Homo sapiens: one gene and its partners. The protein of the gene in region 7 purifies or fractionates together with the protein of the main gene of each other region. This does not show direct contact. Each region holds a gene or a part of one and is shown on either strand. Other genes may lie near its edges. The genes, in order: HARS2, MKLN1, DIRAS1, GFM1, CACNA1C, MAEA and SUCLA2.

Region 1 (2,675 bases), on a different chromosome or scaffold from region 7:
GACTCGGGACCCTGAGAGCCCTAGAGCTCAGCAGGAGGTCCATTTGCAATTCAGCTTACCTTATCAGCAATTCCAAATAAAGTCAGGTATTCAAATAGCAGCTTTAGGTCTCCCAGGCCCTCCAGGGCCTGCTTGTTCTGGGATAGTCTGGGATCCTGAAACATTTGCTCTACTAGGGATACCCCACCTGGAGAGAAATAAAGTCTCTGCTGTTCACTCACATGTGTTTCATTCAAAATTATCCCTAATGTGCTCTAGCTAGTCTTCCTCATTTTCTTTAAAAAAAAAAAAAAAAAAAAAAGATCCCAGTCTCACATGACAAGACCCTCCTCCTTTGCCTCTAGCTTTGCCATCTGAAGACACAAAGTCGTTACAATAAGTAAAAGAGAAATTAAATTCAGGACAGGCCCTGGAGCTTAGCATATCTACAGAAAAGAGTTGTTTCAGAGGTAGAATTTGAGCACATGTCACCTTCAGCCTGGTTCTATCACAGCTCTGAAAACCCTGGTTCTTACCATGACACTGGACATAGTCCCCAATTCGATCAGCCACCTCAGGAGCCAGGCCTTTCTTCACCACCATCTCATGTCTCACATCTTTCCAAGCCATCTGCATAAACACCCAAACATTAGCCCAGCCCCAAGATCTTTCTTTCTCAAACTGAAAAAGGACAACTCAACTTCCATTCAGTATATACATCACAAGTAGCTAACTGTATACTCAGCAAAGTCAGAGACAGCTTAAGAAATCCAGTCACAATCCCCACTGTATAGCATGACTCAGATCTTCCTTCAGAGTATGCCTCCTTACCTTCCACCCCAAAATAGCCCACTTCCAGCCACAATCTCCTTATTTTTCACTAGTGGTATGGATTTGAGGGCAGGGCAGAAGCTAGATAGGGTCTACTGAAGTATGTCTTCTTTGTTACCTTGTCTAGTTTATCTATGGAGGAGCAGATGGCACGGAACTTGCTTTCAGGAACACCACAGACAGCAAACATCCCATCCACAATCCGCCGGTCATTTACCTGAGAACTCAATGTCAGTGACCCAAGTGCTTGTCAATGCCCTTCCACTCAAAACAATGGCAGTACCTACTTTCCTGACACACAAAAAGGATGGAAATTTCACAGGAAGAGTACAGACATATAGGAAATACAACAGCTTTACTAGGAAAGTCCTACAGTTGCAGGCTTAAGGGTTGGAGTCACCCAAGTTTGGGACTTGCATAAACAGTATTAGGCCAAATCCAGACTTCTCCCACAGTTCTCAGCCCTGGCCTCACCTTAATGAGAAAGTCTCCCAACTGCAATCCACTTAGGATTTCACACATGATCTTCAAACACTCTGCATCGGGGATCATAGGGTCAAACTGACCAGCAATGTCAAAATCCTACAGCAAAGAAAAAGATGGGAAAAAACATCCATTATCCAGCCAGTTTCAAGGTTGTGGCCCCTAGAACTATCAAACTGTGCTGCTCCCATCAGGTCACTTACACACTGGCAGAACTCCCTATAACGGCCTTGGACTATGGTTGGGCTCTCTCGCCGCCACACCTTTCCAACATGATAACGTTTCATCTTCTTCACCTTATTCATGGCCAGATAACGAGCAAAGGGAACCTCACATAAATGGGTTAAGGAAGAGGGATACTGCATCCAAAGATTAGGCCCAGTATACAGACATTAGGGAGGACTGGGCCTGGATCTCATCCACTAGGGTAAGAACAAGGACCTTCCCTTTTTTCCACTATCCCCAAGGCCTAGCAGTGCTTGGAATTCAATATATATTGAATAGTGTCAAATGAAGGAATCTCACCTAGCAAAACTAAAAGTTCAGCAGAAAGCAAGGCAAGTAGAGATAGAAGTGACCCAAGAACTAACTTCAGGTCTTTCTGCCCATTCAGATCGATTCCGAACCATCTCAAAATAGTCAAGCTTCAGAACTTGGATTTGCCTAACAACTTCTAAGCTACTGGTTCTGAAAGTGCAGGGAAAGGACTACATGCATCTTAATTACCCACGATGCTTGTTTAAAATGCAGACTGTAGGCCAGATGCAGTGGCTCACACCCGTAACCCCAGCACTTTAGGAGGCCAAGATGGGAGGATCACTTGAAACGATGAGTTTACAACCAGCCTGGGCAACAAAGACACCCATCTCCACAAAAAAAATTTTTTTTTTGAGACAGAGTTTTGCTCTTGTCACCCAGGCTGGAGTGCAATGGCGCAATCTCGGCTCACTGCAACCTCTGCCTCCTGGGTTCAAGTGATTCTCCTGCCTCAGCCTCCCTAGTAGCTGGGATTACAGGCACCTGCCACCACAGCCAGCTAACTTTTTACGTCAAAAGAGATCTGTGGAGACAAGGTGACAGTCAGTCCCAAACTAGACTCAGAACCTGAGAGCCCCAGAGCTCAGCAGGAGCTGAGTAGAGATGGGGTTTCACTATATTGGCCAGGCTGGTCTTGAACTCCTGACCTCAGGTGATCCACCTGCCTCAGCCTCCCAAAGGGCTTGGATTACAGGCGTGAGCCACGTGTCTGGCCAAAAAAAACAATTTTTTAATACAAATTATTGAGCCCCATTCCAGCTACAGAATTAGCTAAGAATCTCTGGGACTGCAGCCAAATGTCTGTGCTTCTGCAAGCTCCCCCAAAGGATTATGATACACACTAG
Region 2 (3,500 bases), on a different chromosome or scaffold from region 7:
TGTGTTTTTCAGTCTGGGACTCTTAGAACTTCAGAAAAATAAAAACACTCAAGATGGAAGAAATGTACTCAGGATGAGAATTTGAGTCTACAGAGCTGATTCCTAGAATTAGATATTTGTGACTTTTGGCAAGTTATGATTCTTTTCTGAGCGTCAGTTTCTTGTGTAGAAATACTTTTTATCTTGATCAAATGTTGAGAGGTTTATGTACAATTTTTTGGGCACATGGGTAAATGGTTCTATTATTTGCGTTAACTTTTAGGTAAATATTTAAATAGATTTTTAATAAATGATTTTTGGCCTGATACAAAGACTTTGTGATGTTTTACGTGTAGATAAGATACATTTCAGCCACTTGTGGCAATGAGTTTGCTGTATTTCAGTCATTCAAAAATCGTTTTTGGAAATATGAAAGATTTTCTAGACTTTAATTTTAGAGATACAGCTATTTATAGACATTTTAATATGTATAAAATGTTTCAAAGAATGTACAGTTGAGAATTTAGAGATCCCTAATTACTGTTTGTTTATAATACCATTTGTCAGAAATCTCTGATAAGAGACAATAGAAAATTTATAAAATTTCTAGGTCTTTATAGGTTCAATCTTAGGATAGTTGATCCGGGTATCTTCTCTGCTACCGGATTTCCCAGGGCTTGTTTTGTGAATGGCTGGTTCTGTAGATTGTTGCTTATTAAGGGGTGGTCAGATAAAGCTCTGAGAAGTCCAGCAGTATTAAAATCTATTAATATGGGGGACTTTTGAAGAAAATATTTTTTAACATCTTTGCACATTGGGAAGATGTTTCAGTTAGAAAATTTTTTTGTTGTTGTTTAATGAGAACTTCAGGACTTGGTTACGAATATTTCTAAAAATCTGTGAAGTCAAAGTAACATTCTGTAGAATACTGTGTATGTATATTTATGCTGTAGATAAACAAAGATATTGTTTGTTTAATGGGTTTTGCTTATGATGAAATTTTACTGATTAAGATTAATCCATGTTTAAAAAAGTATACAAAGAGAAAGGAAATATCATAGTCATTATCTAGGAATAATTTAAGTAGTCTAATATAAATCTGTCCCTAAAAAAGTTGTTGAATGGCAGCTAACTAGATTGAAGTACCCTAACATAACTTATATTTTGAATTGGTTGTTAATAATAATTGGAAAACTAGGCTATGTTTAGTCCTAAGACTATAGGGTTTCCTCTCAACACATTTTAGCTGTATCCCACAAATTGTGGTATGTTACATGTTCATTATCATTTATGCAAAAATGTTTTTCAGATTTTATTTTGGCTTATTCTTTGACCTGTAGGTTTTTTTTTTTTTTTAACAAATGTATTGCTTACTTTTTGAACGTTTGGGGATTTGCTAGTTATCTTTCTGTTACTAATTTCTTAATTTCACTATGATTAGAGAACACACTCTGAATAGTTTCAGACCTTTATTGATACTTATTTTATGGCTCAGCATTTTTATAAATGTTTATGTACCCTTGAAAAGACTATGCATTCTGCTGTTAACTACTGTCTTCTATGTACTTTGTTAAGTTCAAGTTTGTAAATTGTGTTATTGTGTTGTACAAATCTTCTCTATCCTTACTGAATTTTTTTTTTTTTGCCTTTTTTTCTATTCATTACAGAGAGAGGTGTCTTGAGGTTAAGTGTCAAATGTGTCTTACTGTGATTGTGGATTTGTATATTTCTCCTTTTAGTTCTATAAAGAACTAAACTGTATGCTTTATGTATTTTGAAGTCATATTACTAGGCACATACAAACTTATCTTTCTAGTACATTGGCTCTTTATCATTATAACATGTCCCTTTTTATCTCTAGTAACACTTGTCTCTCGCCTCAAAGTCTTCTTAGCTACACCTGCTTTATTTTGGCTGCTGTTTGCTTGCATGGTAAAACTTTCTCTCTCCTTTTTGCTTTTAATGCTCCTGTAGCTTTATATTTGGGGTCTGTTTCTTGTTAAGAATAAACAGATTTTTGTTTGCCTGTTTTTAATTAAATCTGAAATATATTTAGCTCATTAATGGTAAATATAATTATTGATAAATTTGGGTTTATGTCTGTCATTTTATTGTTTTCTGTTTGTCCTACTTGTTCTATATTCTATTTTCTCTCCATTGTTGCCTTCTTTTGGATTAATCAAGTGTTTTAAAAATATTATTTTATTCCTCCCTTTGTTAGCTTGTTAGTTATATATTCTGTTACTGTTCTTTTGGTGGTTACGCTAGATCACCACAAGCTTTCTTGTGGTACATTAGAGTTGCATATTCATTAGGATTTTGAAAAACAACATCTCAGACATTGTTAGGACCCTAGAAAACTTTAATAGCATTTATCACTCTCCTGCTTTTATGTTGTCATTGTCATGCATTTCACGTCTACATTTAAATCCAGAGACTGTTGTTTTGTACAGTTAATATTTACCCTTTCCATTGTTCTTTATTTCCTTTTGTATTTACATGCTTCCATCTGAGATTAATTTTCCTCTGTCTGAAGAACTCCTTTTAGGGAGTTTGGTGGTACTGAATTCTCAGTTTTTGCTTGTTTGAAATTTATTTATTTTCATCTTTGAAGAATATATTAAATGACTGTACAGTTCTACATTATTAGCTGTTATTTTCTTGAAGCACTTTAAAGATCTCAGTTCATTGTCTTCTAGCTTCCATTGTTTCTGTTGCAAAATCAGCCGTCAGACTTACTGTTGCTTCTTGGAAGGTAGTATGACTTTCTTGTTCAGCTGCCTTTCTTTTTGTCATTCTCTTTTTCTTTAAGTTTAAACAGCTTTCAGTGATGCACCTAAGAATGGTTTTGTTTGTACCCTGTTTGGCGTTTCTGGCACCTCTTGAATTTGTAGTATGACTGATCAGCTGTGAAAAAATTTTGACTTTTTAAAAATATTGTTTCTGCCCCATTTTTGTCTCCTTTGCTCTGTGACTCCAATTAAATCTTTATTATACTTTTTATCCCCCATATGTCTCCTGCTCTCTTCTGTTATTTTTATGATTTTTTTCCTCCTCTTATCCGTTCTGGATAGTTTTTACTTGACTGTATTTCAGTTCACTTATTCTGAATTTAACTATGTCCAATCTGCTTTTTAACCCCATCTATTCTTAATTTTAGTTATAGTATTTTTTAGTTTTAGAATTATTTCATCCTCTCTTTTTAAGATAGATTCTAATTATGTGAAAATCTCTTGTCATGTATTTTTTGAGCATATTAATCAAATTGCTTTAAAGTCTGTGTCTGAAAACTTCAATATCTGTATCACCTATAGGCCTATTTCCATCATCTCTTTCCTTTTGATTTTGCATCTTGTTAGGCCAAATAATAATAATAGTTAATATATTTGTATATTAATGTATGTTAATTATATATTCTATTGTATATTATATAAATTATTACATGTGGATAATAACATAATAGTAATAATTATTATTAGGCAATTTTTTGATGGAGTGCCAGACATTATATGCAGAATTTT
Region 3 (2,153 bases), on a different chromosome or scaffold from region 7:
GGAAGGTGGCGTCCTGGAGTCGAGTGTACCTGCAGCCATGAGGTTCTGGGTGTTTTTTGAGAGAGTCTGAGTGACACCACACTCGTGTGACCCCACAGGGTTGTGTCCAACATACACGGAAGTGGCTATGGAATGGTGTATTTGTGCAACCTGGGGTGCGCGGATGGGTGACTTGTATCTAAGTGCATCTGCGTGTATACCTGTGTGTGTCTGTCTGGGATGATATGTTTTTGTGGCAGTCTGTGTGTGTAATAGTGGTGTAGGGTATACAGAGAGGTGGGTAGTTGTAGATACCTGTGTGTGGTTGTCAGCAAGACTGGATATGTGTGAGGTGTCTGTGTGAATCTTTGTGCCTGTATGAGCATGACTATATTTTGGGGAGTGGGTGATATGGTTTATCTGAGAGCATTTATCTGTAAATATGTTTGTCCTGATTGAGGGACACGATCTGTGTTCCACTCTATAGCAACATGACTCTAGCAATGTGACTTTCGGTTCCAAATCTGTATCAGTCAGCTACTGCTGTGTAACAAATGACCACAAATGTAGCAACCAGAAACAACACATGCTTATTATCTCATAGATTCTGTGGGTCAAGAGCCTGGGTGCAGGTTGGCTGGGTCCTCTACTTGGGATCTCAGGAGGCTGCAATCAAAGCATTCGCCAGGCAGAGGTCTCATCTGAAGGCCTGATCGGGGAAGGATTTGCTTCTTAGAAGCTCATGTGGTTGTTGCAGCATTCAGTTCCTTGCTGTTGCAAGACTGAAGGCCTCAGTTCCTCGCTGGCTGTTGGCTGGAAGCTGCCCTTTGTTCTGTACCATGTGGGTCTCTCCACAGCGGGGCTCGGAGCATGGCAGCTAAGTTAGTGAGGGAAGGTGAGATGGAGGTTTTGGTCTTATTGGGTGTGAGGAAGCAACGTGTGTGTGTGCGCACGCCCTTTTGTGCAGTGAGAGAGAGAGAGAGATTGCACACATGTGTCTCTGTAGTCATGTGGCCAGGTGGGACTATGTAGGTAACAGATTGCTCGTGTCTGATTTGGTACAAGCATGTTTGTTTTCCTCTGTGTTCGTGTGAGTGTTTACTCAACAAATGTTTATTGGACACACTCAGAGAGAGGGAGTGTGCACACGTGCGTGTGTGTTGCTATCCAGCACGTGGACCGGGCTCCCAGAAGAGCTGGCATTGTGTCTGAGCAGAGCTGGGTCCCCCCAAAACTTGGGCTGGCCCAGGGCCCACCAGCAGCTGATGTTGCCTCCTCTCCTGTCCTGGCAGTAGCTTCTGGGTTCTGAAGGTGCCGGAGAGAGTGAGGCTGGGCAGGGGTCTGCGGCCCTTTCTCAGGGACACACCCTGATAGCACAATCTCCTTGGGGCCCTGCCCACCTCCAGGCCTCTCCCACCTCAGGCCCTGCCCGACCCTGGGGAGAGAGGGCATCTGCAATAGGAGGGGACCCGAGCCTGTCCTGGCTGCTGGCCCATCCTGCCTGGGCATCCCTGGTGCTGGGGACTGTGCCAGGCCATGCTTGCTGTGACTCCGCCCCTGCCCCCTCTCCCCCCGCATGTGGGTGCCCCCACTCCCCCATCGTGGGGTCTGTGTAGCCTTCGCTCTAGACATAGTCTTCCTGCAATAAAAAAGTGGATCCTGCATTCCCCACCAGCATGGCGCCCTGTCTCTGTGGTGGGCGTGGGGTGTCAGCTCACCGCCTGTAAAGGATCAAGAAGGGTGGGGAGGTGCAGGATGGGGTGAAGGGTGAAGGAGGTGATGGGTGTAGGAAGTGAGGGATGGGATGAAGGGTGGAGGAGGTGATGGGTGTAGGAAGTGAGGGATGGGATGAAGGGTGGAGGAGGTGATGGGTGTAGGAAGTGAGGGATGGGATGAAGGGTGGAGGAGGTGGTGGGTGGAGGAAGTGAGGGATGGGGTGAAGGGTTGAGAAGGTGGTGGGTGTAGGAAGTGAGGGATGGGATGAAGGGTGGAGGAGGTGACGGGTGTAGGAAGTGAGGGATGGGGTGAAGGGTGGAGGAGGTGGTGGGTGTAGGAAGTGAGGGATGGGATGAAGGGTGGAGGAAGTGGTGGGTGTAGGAAGTGAGGGATGGTGTGAAGGGTGGAGGAGGTGATGGGTGTAGGAAGTGAGGGATGGGGTGAAGGGTGGAGGAGGT
Region 4 (3,500 bases), on a different chromosome or scaffold from region 7:
GATTAGTGATTTTAAAATTCATTCAGAGGAATAAATAGGTAAAAACAGAAATTTTTCAAAAACTATGGTAATAAGATAAAACTAACCCTGACAGATATAAAAACATATTAAAATGCTTGAAACTCAGAAAATTCAGAACCAGCACAAATTAGACTAAACACCCCACAGAGTACAGTATAAAAATCTAAAGTATAAAATATATTTGTCAATAGATGATAAAGAAACATGACAAATCAATGGAAAAGGAAGAAAGGATTGTGCATAAAGTACTAACTGGACAACTGATACTCTATTTGGAGGCAGAGGAGATACATTTAGATCCTACCCACTAAAACAAATTCCAGTTGAATTAATGATGGGGAAAGAAAAAAAACATAAAGAAGTAGAAGGAACGAAAGTAAATATTAACAAAATATATACAAATAAAAGGTTGCTAAGGTTAAAAATTAATGAATGACTAAACAGAAAGACTGACATATTCGACTATACAAACTTTAAAGCACTGATTGCTTTTAAAAATCAAAATTTATTTCATCAAGATAAAAGATTACAATAGAATTCTTCATTTGTTAAATCAGTAATGATTTTTAAACAATACTCAATGATGATATTCATTGAAATAATCCAATACATTAATTTGGAGAGTATGAACGCAATCTGGCAATATAAACCATTAACTATGAAAACATTCTATGCCTTTAACTCAATAATCACTATTCTGGGAATCCTAAGAAAATATTCTTATATATGTATTTTTAAAAGCTTTATGTGTAAATACTTTTACTGTAATGTTATTTCCACTTTTTAATTAAAAAAATTTTCCCCTCATTTTGGAGGTAATAAATATACTGTAAAATATTTTTAAAGTAAGAAAAAGCCCCCAAAATATAATCCCATCCCAGAAATAACCACTCTTAACACTTCCAACTTATCTACCATTTTTCCCCACTTAAAATATTATGTACAGAAGCAACAGCATTTCAACAAAAAGCCCATCCAGTCCCCAAATCTTGGTTTCTAATACCATTTTACTTAAAAAGGAACCAGTGCTCCTTGGAGAACGGCTGATTCTAGGGTTAGGGCATGGAATATACAAGATAAGCCTGAGGCGTCTTGTAGTGCCAGCAAGTAAGGAAGTATTCAAAAAGGCAAAACATTGGAAGATGTTAAAGGAACACAGGAGCCAACTGAGAGTTCCCAATCGCCAAACCCAGCCAATCTGAACAACAAATGACATACTCAAAGTCATAGTTATAACTCAAAGTTCAAAATACATATACGTGAGTCCACGCTGATATTAAATAAGTGATTGTCCAAATAGATAAATAAGCAGGGAAGAAAGACAAATCTCCCTTTCAGAAGAATTCCAAATAACTTATGTAGATAGTGCCCCCTTCAAGGGGGTGGAACATAATTCCCCCCTCAAGTGTTGGCTGAGCCAAGTGACTTCCTTCTAAAAAGTACACTATGAAAAGGGGAATAAAAAGAGTACAGTAACTTTACAGCAGAGAAACCTGTCAAACACTATCTCAGCCAGGTGTGGTGATTGAGGTTAGCATTAACAATGATAAATCAGCCGGGTGCGGTGGCTCATGCCTGTAATCCCAGCACTTTGGGAGGCCAAGACACTCGGATCACCTGAGGTCAGGAGTTCGAGACCGGCCTGACCAACAGGGAGAAACTATGTCTCTACTAAAAATACAAAATTAGCTGGGCGTGGTGGCGCATGCCTGTAATCCCAGCTACTTGGGAGGCTGAGGCAGGAGACTCGCTTGAACCTGGGAGGTGGAGGCTGCAGCGAGCCGAGATTGTGCCATTGCACTCCAGCCTGGGCAACAAGAGCGAAATCTCATCTCAAAAAAATAAAAATAAAAACAAAAAAAAACAAAAACAATGATAAATCATGCTGCAAGTCTGTACCTTGGATATGATGTGACAAGAATAACACTTCACCTCGATGGCAGTCCTCCTAAAAACACATGACTCCAATCTAATCATGTGAAAAGCATCAAATAATAAACCCAAATTGAGGGACACTCTACAAAAGAGCTGACCAATACTTCTCAAAAATATCAATCTCGTGAGAAACAAGGAAAGTCTAAGAAACTATTACAGCCTAGGAGATCATAAGGAGACATGACAATCAAATATAACGTGGTCCTCTGGATGGGCCTTCTGTGGTCCTTCTGTCTAGTGAGACGGAAAAAGGACCTAGACAAAAACTAAAGAAATTCAAATGAAGTAAGGATTTTAGTTAATAATAATATATCAGTATTGGCCCATTAGTTGTGACAGTGTGTATTAACAATAGAGGAAACTGGGTGCAGGATATACAGGAATTCTCTGGACTATCTTCATAACTTTTCTTTAAAATATTCTAAAATAAGTAAGTTTGTTTCTTTTTAAATCATAAACATCTTTTCATGTCAAAAATAGGCATTTCAACATAATTTTTAAAGTCTGAATAATGTTGTACTATAAGAATGTACCTCAGTTTATTTATCAAATTGTAATTACTGGGCATTTTCTTTTTTTTTTTTTCCGAGATGAAGTCTTGCTCTGTCGCCCAGGCTGGAGTGCAGTGGTGCGATCTCGGCTCACTGCAACCTCCACCTCCCAGGTTCAAGCAATTCTCCTGCCTCAGCGTCCTGAGTAGCTGGGATTACAGGTGTCCGCCACCATACTCAGCTAATTTTTGTACTTTTAGTATAGACAGGGTTTCACCATGTTGGCTAGGCTGGTCTCGAACTCCTGACCTTGTGATCCGCCCGCCTTGGCCTCCCACTCCTGACCTTCTGATCTGCCCGCCTCAGCCTCCCAAAGTGCTGGGATTACAGGTGTGAACCACTGCGACTGGCTGGGCATTTTCAATTGTTTGCGAGATTTTGGTTTTATAAGGTGAGCTGAAGCTAACATTAATTCGCTACCCTTCATTAGTTCCTTAGGACATATTTCTAGAAATGGACCCAATGTTATTTATAACAGTAGAAACCTGGAAACAATATAAACATCTAACAATTAGGAAATTTTAAGCAAATTTTGGTGTATCTACTTGATGCACTGTTATGCTACTATTTAAAATGCTTAAACTATTTATAGAAACATGGACCATTATCTACTGTGACATTAAATAAAAAGAGCAGGACAAAACTATACAGGTAGTATGATTTAGGTAAAAATTTACACTCTTCAGGCAAAGAGAAGAGACTAGAAAGAAATGCACCTAATAACAAAAGAACTATCATGTCAGAGCTTTGGAAATTCTCTACCTGCTCTTTCTACTTTCCTATTTTCCAAATCTTTCATAAAAGTCAGAGTCATTCTGTAATAGGAATAAAGCCTAGAAGTAAAAACATTCTACAGATAGCAGTTAAATACATTAGAAAGCAACTTACCTCCAGTTTAAAAGCCAGGCCTACAAATGGGTGGGAATTGTCTCTACTGGAGTTCATTAGGATTTTGGTTTTCTCTTTTGAGTCACTTAAAATAAAAGAAATATA
Region 5 (2,732 bases), on a different chromosome or scaffold from region 7:
CCATGGGCAGATGCTTACACGACCTCTTTGTGAAGCCTCTTCTGGGTTTAACTTCATTCATCAATTTATTCTTATGTCAAAGCAATGAAACTTTTCTTTCTGGAGCCAGATACCAATACAACAGGTGAACGGGTTTCTGCCACATCTCTACATTGACGGGGGATGCTTGAACAACCCCCCTCACTACACAGACACACACCGTTAAGGCACAAGGGCTGGGGTTGAGCTCTAGATGAGGGACTTTCCTGCTCCTGCAAGGGTGAGCACTGTATACACAGACAAGGAGGGTGCAGTAGAGTGACTCCCTTGGATGGAAGTAGTACCATCAGAACCTACTATTATTATGACATAAATTCTATTTACATACATTGAGAGAATACTACAATCAACACTTTTTCCTGGGATGACTTTAAGAGGTTTGAGCCACAGCACCTGAAGTGGCAAAGATCCATGGTCTTTGTAGGGTATTAGAGAACTCTTCCAGTCACCTCTGAAAGCACTCTAGATCTTGCAGCTGAGTGGATGAAGTGTAACAAATCTGTTGCACGCTGAGAGGAGTCAGAATTAGCATTTTTCATGAAAGTTCCCCACGTCTCTACTAAGAATGAGGAAGAAAAGACTAAGACTAGGTAATTACACAGAGGCTTGAAATGTTACATCACCAGAGCCAAGTCCTCTCCCTTCAGATCAGTTACTGGCTGCTACACAGGGACACCCCCACCTTTTCAGGGCATCCCATGCACTCCACTTCTCAGGATCTAAGGAATTTGACTTTGTAGGGATCCCAGAAAGGGCACTGTGCCACTTCCCCTGGTGTGAATCAGACATACATTGTACATTCATTTCTAAAATTCACTCATGCACCTCAAACCAAGGTCATTATCCAAAAAAAAAAAAAAAAAGCTCTGGGTGGAAGAGTTTGTAAGTTTTAAGAGAGGGTCATTTCTATGTGAGGAAATGCAGAAATGGACAGAATGATTCTTATTCACTGTTTGGGTCTGGAGAATTCCCATTGTGGAAATCTTAGAGATCTCAAGTTTATTACCAAGGGAATAAGGAAAAAAAGGTGAGCAGGCACCAGGCCAAGCAGTGGCTCCCTTGCCAAGGAACCTGAGGCTGCAGGTTTCAGGGACCCCCTTGAAGAAACCTCTCCTGGCCATTGGCCAGGAGAAAAGAGAAGTCTCTCCTGTAGAGTCACAAGAGAAGCAAAAGAGGGTGGGTCACTGGGTCCTGGACATAGCCCCCAACCCCAAGACTTCCCAATATGGAGAAACTACACCAATGTTTAAAAGGGGAAAAGGAAAGAACTTGTACATCAAGGGAAGATGATTTGTAAACACACAGTCCTGTGCAGAAAGATCCCCTTCAGGAGGTGTCTCCAGCATCCCAAAGCTGTGCGCACCTTCTCTTTTCCTGCCTCAGGCCACCTATGCATCCAGCTGCAGCCCATACCCACACCTGAAATCCATCTCTTGAATCCCAGCCAGGTTATATACCACCCCATTGCCATGTCCTGTCCTGGCCAGAATGCATGCTGTTCCCCCAAGCCTCGTGGGAGTGAGGCCATGGGAAACAGAGATGAGCATGTCTGGACAAGTCTGTGATGGTAGTGGATGAGAATAACCCATGGCAAAACACGCACATTCATTAAGAAATAGGGCGACAGATTCCCCGTTGGTGAAGCACTGAAAGGTCTATTACTCTCATAATATTGCTGTTTTATTTTAATCCACCAGAGCTACCATGCAAAACTTTCCTCCTGTGAAACGCTCCAGATAAAGCTCCTCTAATCTCCCCTTCCCTCATGTCCTCCAGCTCAAACCCACCTTCATCCCCCAAACCAATCTGTATCATGCCTGTTATCAGAGAGGCACAGAAAGATGGGCAGTGCCTCCGTTGTCACCATTCCCCACACCCCTACACACCCCCACACCCTCCCCTCCAGGCTCCACGACTTCACAGTCTTACTGTTGTAAATATCATTGTACAGTTTGTAATCCTCAAATAATCCCATTGTCAGAGGCCTCGCCTGATGGGCCTTCTCACCCTCGAGAAAGGCCAGGGAATCTAGAAGGGGCAACCCTTCAAGGAGAGCTTCAGGGTCATCTCTGTGTGAGACACTATTGTATATTCCTGTAAGATTGCATTTTTATCTAAGGAATGATGTTATTTAAAAAACAAACAAAAAACACAAAAAATAAGAATTGCAAATAAATTTCTTAACAATGTCTACATTGACTTCATTGTATCTTCCCTCTTCCTTATTTCTTCCTTTCTCCTGTTTCCTAGAGGTCACAAATACAAACTTCACTCAGTTATCTCAACTGTCTGGGATCCCCAAAAGGAAGAAGACTGGAGAGAACACAGGAAATATGAATCCAATGATAATACCTAAGTCCATTCAGCAGTTAACCCATCCCCTATTTCTTCCTTCTCATGAAAGAGTTGACAGAAAAATGGCCAAAAGTTAAAAAGGAGACAAAATCAGAGGAATTAAATGGCTAATTCACATGGATTAGACAGGAAAAGCAGTCTCTGAAATTGGTTTTGAAAGGACAGAAGGGAAGAGGGATGGAATGTAGGAGAGAAGAAAGGAGGGGGAGATATGATAATATATAAAGTACTATGAGGACTATACAAATGTAAGATTGCTTTTCTTTTTTTTTGTTATTATAACTTAATCTGATTTCGATAAACCTTTCAGAATAACCCCTTAAGTAAAAATAATTTGT
Region 6 (3,500 bases), on a different chromosome or scaffold from region 7:
TGCCTGGTGGATGAGTGTGTCTGGTGTTGGATGAAGTTGAGATTGGTGTTGGATGAAGTTGAGATTGGATGCCTGGTGGATGACCGTGCCTGGTGTTGGATAAAGTTGAGATTGGATGCTTGGTGGATGAGCGTGCCTGGTGTTGGATGAGTTGAGATTGGATGAGCGTGCCTGGTGTTGGATGAGTTGAGGTTGGATGAGTGTGCCTGGTGTTGGATGAGTTGAGATTGGATGAGCGTGCCTGGTGTTGGATGAGTTGAGATTGGATGCCTGGTGGATGAGTGTGTCTGGTGTTGGATGAAGTTGAGATTGGATGCCTGGTGGATGAGTGTGTCTGGTGTTGGATGAAGTTGAGATTGGATGCCTGGTGGATGAGTGTGTCTGGTGTTGGATAAAGTTGAGATTGGTGTTGGATGATTTGAGATTGGATGCCTGGTGGATGAGCGTGCCTGGTGTTGGATGAGTTGAGATTGGATGAGCGTGCCTGGTGTTGGATGAGTTGAGATTGGATGAGCGTGCCTGGTGTTGGATGAGTTGAGATTGGATGAGCGTGCCTGGTGTTGGATGAAGTCGAGACTGGACGGGGCCTGAATCCATATTTAGATGCTGTCCAGAAATGCGCCCTGAAGACTCCAAATGACACGAAAACATGCCCGGTACGAGATGCGGCCGAGCCAGTTGGGGTACACGGCTGTCTGTGCAGTCTGCTCACATGTGCACGCACGCCAGGGGGTGTGTGGGGAGGCAAGGAGGAGCCAGACTGTGCTCTAACGGGTCCCTGGGACCAGCTGTGAGAACCTAGATGGGAAAAGAAACTTGAGACCCAAGTTTGACCTGGCTGAGAGATGGATTTCACAGGCATGGGTGGGTGAGTGGCCCTGAAGGCCCCTGAAGCAGTGATTTGTTTGCTGCACGTCTGTGCGAAAGCCACACGGAGCCATCAGTGTGGGCGCCTGTCGCAGGGCGGGCACAGCCTTGTTGGCGCTCCACGCCGTATGGGACAGTGTAGACTCGGTGTTTTAGATTTGGGTCTGAATACCTAAGTTTCACGACATAGACACACTTACATATTAGTGGACCAATTGAAAGTAACCTACTAGAGCAAAAGGTGTTATTGAAAAGCAGGTTTGAGGTGTCTATTGTGTGAAGCGGTAACCTAGAGTGGGCCCAGAGTCCTGCTCTTCTAGAGCACCCCCTCGGCAGCTGCGTCCTGCCTTTAGACAGAGCCCCGGCACTCGCCTGCTCTAGACACGGCAGCCATCAGGCAGCCCCTGGGAGGCAGGTGGGGCCCTGGTGGGGAGCCTCTATCTCTTCCCGCTGGCCCTTCCCTTCCTCTCCTGCCAGGCTGGCTCTGAAGGGAGCGGAGTGCTGACCGAAGTCTGCCTGCTGATTAGTGGGGTGGGGACTCGGGACCCTGGGATGACTTTGTGCCTCTCGGCTGATTTGTACCAAGCCTGGCACTCCCCACCCAGAGCCTGTGCCACTGCTGGGGTCAGAGACAGTCCTCCTGCCCCAGCTTGGAGCAAGCCTGTGAGTTCTGCGTCCAGCCTGTTGACCCGTCTGTCTAGGGACACAGGGTGATGAGGGGCTGAGGGTACAGGGCAGAGGCAGCAGGGCAGGGACCTGAGCCCCTCTGAGCCCCTGGAAGGCAGGTGGCCCCCGGGGGTCTGGGCAGCCCAGTCCTCCCCACACCCACGCGGAGCCACTGCTGTGGGTGCTATGCGTGTCGGGGCAGCAAGGCTGGCAGGCGGGGTGGGCTGGAGCACAGGTGGCTCCTCAGAAAGCTCAGTGGGGAAAGCTCTGGGAAGCGGAAGTGATGAGCTTCAACTTAAATGCAGTGGTCCGGGGTGGATTCATCTGCCACGTGGAGTTTCTGTTCATGCCGTCCTGAGAGCCAGGCCATGTGAACCCAGAGTGACACGCGGCCCCAGCCCAAGACTCGCTCCGTGGTGCCCACGCCTATATCCTGTTTCCGGGGTGAAGCCCTGAGAATGTCCTGAAACCACACGGAAGATCTTACGGTTTAGACGGACATGTCACTTCCGTAGAATCCGCGTCTCATCTTGGATGACTGCGGTCAATGTTGCCGCTGCCCCCACCCCAGCCACAAGTCTCGGCCCACGTTGGACTGAGGTTGCTGAGATTTCAGATTGAGGGTTGGGCTTCCCTTAGGTGCACGTGAGAGGCTCATAGGCAGACACATGTGGGACTTGGTCCTGCAGGAGCTTCCCCCACCCCCGCCCCTGCCTCAGGCATAGTGCCTTCAGCCAGCAGCCCCAACTCGGCCTCTCTCCGTCTTCTACACATCCTGGAAGCGCCCTCCCTTCACGCGAGCCGCCCCTTGGCCTCACAGCCACCTAGGACCTCAGTGTCCCCTGGGCCAGGCCTCCATTCCATGTGCCACCCGCCTGGGGCCTCGGCACCGGCCCCGGCTTCTGCCCGCCATGTTCTCGCCAGGTGTCTGTGCGGTCCCCCGTCCATAACCTCGGTGCAGGCGCTCCCCGCCCTACCGACCTGGGTCCTGCCTGCTGCAAGCTTGCTTCTCTGCCTCATGCCCCTGTGAGGCACCAGCCAGCAACCCCACATGTGGTCCCTGTCTCCTCCCCGCCCTGCCGACCTGGGTCCTGCCTGCTCCAAGCTTGCTTCTCTGCCTCATGCCCCTGTGAGGCACCAGCCAGCAGCCCCACATGTGGTCCCTGTCTCCTCCCCACCCGGGGCATCAGCGCCTCGGGACAGGACTTGCCCACGTTCTCCCAGAACAGCCCCGGGTTCAAGCCAGCACCCAGTCTACATTCGGGATAGTTGGGTCCAGAGGCCCGGTGGGAGTGTAGAGGAAGCAGTGGCCTCAGGGCGGGACCCAGGAAGCTGCTTTGTCCTTGCAGAGGGGTTGGTGCCTTTGCTCCAGCAGCTGCACCTGCTGCTCTGCCCTCCCAGCTGTGCTCCTGGAAGCGCCCTGAGCGCCCTGGCCTTCGGGTTGAAATGCTGGGCGGCTGCACGCCCCACCGCAGCTGCAGGAGCAGGGGGCGGGACTCACATTCAGAACCCAGTGTTCCCTGGAAAGTCTGCTGCAGGTTAAAGTGGCAGCTTCAGCCTCAGCCCTGCCTTCCCCGTGCCTGTGAGAGAGGGGTTCAGAGCTTTGGTTGTGGGGTCTGCTGGTGGACATGCGGGTGCGGCACCCGGGCACCTGGGCTCTGTGGGATGTGCTGTCTAAGCCCTCGTCTTGTCTTTGCCCTCAGAGCTGCCTGGAGTTCAGCCTCAGAATCCAGGAGTTCATTGAACTCATCCGGCAGAATAAGAGACTGGACGCTGTGAGGTAGGCATTGCGGACGTGCGTCTCCTCGAGGGAGGGCAGGATGTTCGGCTGCGGCCCCTGCCAGCCCTCCCTGTCGTGGTCTGGGTCCTGGGACGTCCCCTGGGTCGTCCCCTGGGTCTTGAGTCTGACCCCTGCCTGCTCAGGTGGCTGCTTCTCCCACTGTTCCTGAATGGGACTTGGGGAGTGA
Region 7 (3,500 bases):
TTAATGTTCTACATGAAATCCGTACTGGGGCTTTCAAATATATACCCAGTTGCTTCAAAAAACAAGCTAGTTAACACACAGATTCAGCTTGTAAAACCTAATACCCTCGAAAAACAGATAATTCTAGTATAAAATGATTATCAATGCTCTCTTCCAAACACCAGGTCTATAAAGGGATTTTCTCTTCACCAGAAGCTTTATGTTCAACATTTTAGGTTCCATAAAGAGAGGAGAGCTGTGCTAATGTAATACTCCTTAAAACCATATTGTTTGCTACTTAATGTCATCCCTCAATTTACCAAATATTGAATCATATAGTGAAACAAACCCGAAACTATTAAAAAAAAAAAAACAAACCCAAGAAGTTGAGAAAACAGAAGATGAGGCAATGGATACACATTCTTCTAGTGGGTTCAGCAACTTTCTCTTTCATTAGAATATTTTACTATGCTAGATATAATTTTCTCAATCTGGAGATGATCCAGAGATGATTTAAGCTGCTTTTAGTGAATTAACAATTTGAGAATCCCATGAAATTTATTACAGCAGAATTTTTCCTATAATTTTAAGATCATGATATTATATATCAAATTTTACGGCATTAAAGAAGCTGTTTTTTAAATGACATAAATATCATGCTCATGACATACAAACAGATTATAATTTGTACTTTTAAAATCTTTCCCACATAAATAGAAACAATAATGGACTTTTGAAATTGAATGTCATAAATTTATCCCGTATGTATCATGTCTACAATTACTCACTTGAAATGACCTTTCCATTGTTATTGCAAAGTAGTATTCTCTCCTGGGATATTTTCGCTCACAGACCAATACTTGATTGCATATTCTGCCCTTTTCTCCCGTTTGCTTGGTAAACAATTTTTTCCCAATCATTTGTGAAGAAACAGCTTTTGCTTCTTCTGGACTAAAATAAGAAAAAGAACTCAAATTTTTCTTTCCTCCAGTTGAGAAAAAGCAAATCCACATAATAGCCAAAATTTTATCTCATCTAATATTTAAATTTCAGTATTTTCATCAATTCAATAAGTAATCTTTAATCAGTCTTTAACAAGGATGATTTTTCCTTAAAAAATGTGACTTACGAGAAAACTATCTTCACTCCTCCTTTGAGGCCACTTTCAAATGTTCCTTTTCCTCTACCACCAGCTAAAACCTGTGCCTTTATCACGACATCTTTTGAACCTAGAAGAAAAACACTTCTATTAAATATGAAGCATGGAGCAGCATGCCAGACATAGTATTTTGTTATTTAACATACATATTGACAGGTGTTATTAAATCAAGTCTAATTTATTCACAATGTCCAAAAATAAGGCATTCTCTTTATGTAGATTTTCTAGATTAGAACACTAAAATAATCACTGTCTAAAAGGCCCACAATTTTCAAAATTCGTCACTTACATTAAACCATTTCTTTTTTTTTTTTTTTGAAACAGAGTCTCGCTCTGTCGCCCAGGCTGGAGTGCAGTGGCGCGATCTCGGCTCACTGTAAGCTCCGCCTCCCAGGTTCACGCCATTCTCCTGCCTCAGCCTCCCGAGTAGCTGGGACTACAGGCGCCCGCCACCATGCCTGGCTAATTTTTTTGTATTTTTAGTAGAGACAGGGTTTCACCATGTTAGCCAGGATGGTCTCGATCTCCTGACCTCATGATCTGCCCACCTCGGCCTCCCAAAGTGCTGGGATTACAGGCGTGAGCCAGTGCTGGGATTACAGGCATGAGCCACCGCACCTGGCCACATTAAACCATTTCTTAAAAGTAAACTGAAAATAATTTAACCATTTCTTGACACTTTGGAAAGTGTCATCTAGAACTCTGGAAAGTATCAAAAGTACAAAATTGAATTTCATGTCTTCCTAACACGTCCCTCCCTCTCTATTCACATGTAAACTTGCTGTCCTGAGAACATCTGAGTTATATCGCTATAGCAGGAATATGTCATGATTTGGGGGATATTACCATTACCAGTATTGATACTGATTTATACTGTCCCACTAAGAGAAAGTTCTATTAAAATACATTATTGAGCAGTACTGCATGAGTAGTACTATCAGGAGTTATTAAGGTATCTGTATCAAAAGATTTCAGAATTCTATGCTTGCAAAGCTTATGCATATTTTTAAATAAATGGACTGAATTTTTCTTCTTTAACAGGTAGACTGATTACTATTTATCCCTTTTCCTCTCCTTTCTAATTTGCTGTGGAAAACCAGCAAACTGGCTGTTTAGCCTAGATAGTACTCATCATTCATGATCAAGAGTAAATGGGCCCGGTGCGGTGGCTCACTCCTGTAATCCCAGCCCTTTGAGAGGCTGAAGCAGGCGGGTCACATGAGGCCAGGAGTTCGAGACCAGACTAGCCAATATGGTGAAATCTCATCTCTATTAAAAATACAAAAATTAGCCAGGCATGGTGGTACATGTCTGTAATCCCAGCTACTTGGGAGGTTGAGGCACAAGAATCACTTGAATCCGGGAGGCGGAGGTTGCAATGGGCCAAGATTGTGCCATTGCACTCCAGCCTGGAGGACAGAGCAAGGCTGTCTCAAAAGAGTAAATGCTCTGGGTGATGGGTATCCTAAATGCCCTGAATTGATCATTACACACTCTATGCATGTAACAAAATATAACATGTACCACAAAAATATTATGTATCAGTTAAAAAAAAAGAGTAATACCTCTTAGAAAGGCATTCTCTGTGTACCAGACAGGCAGAATTCAGAGCCTCCTCATTTTGCCTCTCATAGCATTTTGCCCACACTGGCAGGGTGGCACCAACTATACATTATGGCAAAATAACCTTTGAGATCAGGGCTAAAGGTCTCACTGTATTCATTATATCCCAAGCACAAGGAAGTCTCTGGGATATAACAACTACTCCATAAACATGGATTTGAACAGACTGAAGTAGAGTCCTCTACAACTAGGATGTCACTCCACGATGCATTTATCAAGCAGAATGAGAGGAAGCTCCCACCTAATCAGATGAACCAACCAAATCAATGAGGTAGGAAATGGAGTTTGAAACCAAACAAAAACAACCTAAAGTTTACACATTAACAATTATTTTAAAAGAACATTTAGAAAATTACTGATGTAAGCCTTCACCAGAAATACATGCTATTTAAACCAGATGATGACCCTATGCGTAGTCAGCCAAGAGAGTGTTTAAAAAACTTGTCTTTCTCAAACCCCACTTCCATTCAGCCAGGAAATCATACTGGTTCTATCTTCAAATTTATCCAGAATCTTCACCATTCCTCATCACCTGCAGTTTAGACTCTGATCCCAACCACCACTATCTCTTAACTATATGACCTTTGTCCCCCACAGAATATTCTCAAGGCAGCAGCCAAAGCAGGCACACCATTCCTCTACTTAAAACCTTGCACTGAATGCCAGTCTCACTCAGTTAAATGCCAAAGTGCTTACAATGGCCTAGAAGACCTTATAATACCCTCTACACTTTTTATCT

What was found.
Region 1: the proteins of SUCLA2 (region 7) and HARS2 purify together in Homo sapiens (affinity purification with mass spectrometry; 2 studies listed by BioGRID and IntAct, with this or other methods). This does not show direct contact.
Region 2: the proteins of SUCLA2 (region 7) and MKLN1 purify together in Homo sapiens (affinity purification with mass spectrometry; 2 studies listed by BioGRID and IntAct, with this or other methods). This does not show direct contact.
Region 3: the proteins of SUCLA2 (region 7) and DIRAS1 purify together in Homo sapiens (affinity purification with mass spectrometry; one large-scale study listed by BioGRID and IntAct). This does not show direct contact.
Region 4: the proteins of SUCLA2 (region 7) and GFM1 purify together in Homo sapiens (affinity purification with mass spectrometry; one large-scale study listed by BioGRID and IntAct). This does not show direct contact.
Region 5: the proteins of SUCLA2 (region 7) and CACNA1C purify together in Homo sapiens (co-immunoprecipitation; one large-scale study listed by IntAct). This does not show direct contact.
Region 6: the proteins of SUCLA2 (region 7) and MAEA purify together in Homo sapiens (affinity purification with mass spectrometry; one large-scale study listed by BioGRID and IntAct). This does not show direct contact.

Annotation. Positions count from the first base shown.
Region 1 is NC_000005.10:140,694,455-140,697,129, reverse strand, and holds part of HARS2 (histidine--tRNA ligase, mitochondrial isoform 1 precursor), read right to left. Parts: intron 1,623-2,675; coding exon 1,497-1,622; intron 1,393-1,496; coding exon 1,285-1,392; intron 1,028-1,284; coding exon 929-1,027; intron 610-928; coding exon 516-609; intron 188-515; coding exon 60-187; intron 1-59. UniProt on the Homo sapiens protein: Mitochondrial aminoacyl-tRNA synthetase that catalyzes the ATP-dependent ligation of histidine to the 3'-end of its cognate tRNA, via the formation of an aminoacyl-adenylate intermediate (His-AMP).
Region 2 is NC_000007.14:131,334,376-131,337,875, forward strand, and holds part of MKLN1 (muskelin), read left to right. Parts: intron 1-3,500. UniProt on the Homo sapiens protein: Component of the CTLH E3 ubiquitin-protein ligase complex that selectively accepts ubiquitin from UBE2H and mediates ubiquitination and subsequent proteasomal degradation of the transcription factor HBP1.
Region 3 is NC_000019.10:2,714,067-2,716,219, reverse strand, and holds the end of DIRAS1 (GTP-binding protein Di-Ras1), read left to right. Parts: 3' UTR 1-1,653; downstream 1,654-2,153. UniProt on the Homo sapiens protein: Displays low GTPase activity and exists predominantly in the GTP-bound form.
Region 4 is NC_000003.12:158,654,527-158,658,026, reverse strand, and holds part of GFM1 (elongation factor G, mitochondrial), read right to left. Parts: intron 3,481-3,500; coding exon 3,396-3,480; intron 1-3,395. UniProt on the Homo sapiens protein: Mitochondrial GTPase that catalyzes the GTP-dependent ribosomal translocation step during translation elongation.
Region 5 is NC_000012.12:2,695,719-2,698,450, forward strand, and holds the end of CACNA1C (voltage-dependent L-type calcium channel subunit alpha-1C), read left to right. Parts: 3' UTR 1-2,232; downstream 2,233-2,732. UniProt on the Homo sapiens protein: Pore-forming, alpha-1C subunit of the voltage-gated calcium channel that gives rise to L-type calcium currents. Mediates influx of calcium ions into the cytoplasm, and thereby triggers calcium release from the sarcoplasm.
Region 6 is NC_000004.12:1,324,391-1,327,890, forward strand, and holds part of MAEA (E3 ubiquitin-protein transferase MAEA), read left to right. Parts: intron 1-3,236; coding exon 3,237-3,313; intron 3,314-3,500.
Region 7 is NC_000013.11:47,987,774-47,991,273, forward strand, and holds part of SUCLA2 (succinate--CoA ligase [ADP-forming] subunit beta, mitochondrial precursor), read right to left. Parts: intron 1,209-3,500; coding exon 1,109-1,208; intron 931-1,108; coding exon 768-930; intron 1-767. UniProt on the Homo sapiens protein: ATP-specific succinyl-CoA synthetase functions in the citric acid cycle (TCA), coupling the hydrolysis of succinyl-CoA to the synthesis of ATP and thus represents the only step of substrate-level phosphorylation in the TCA.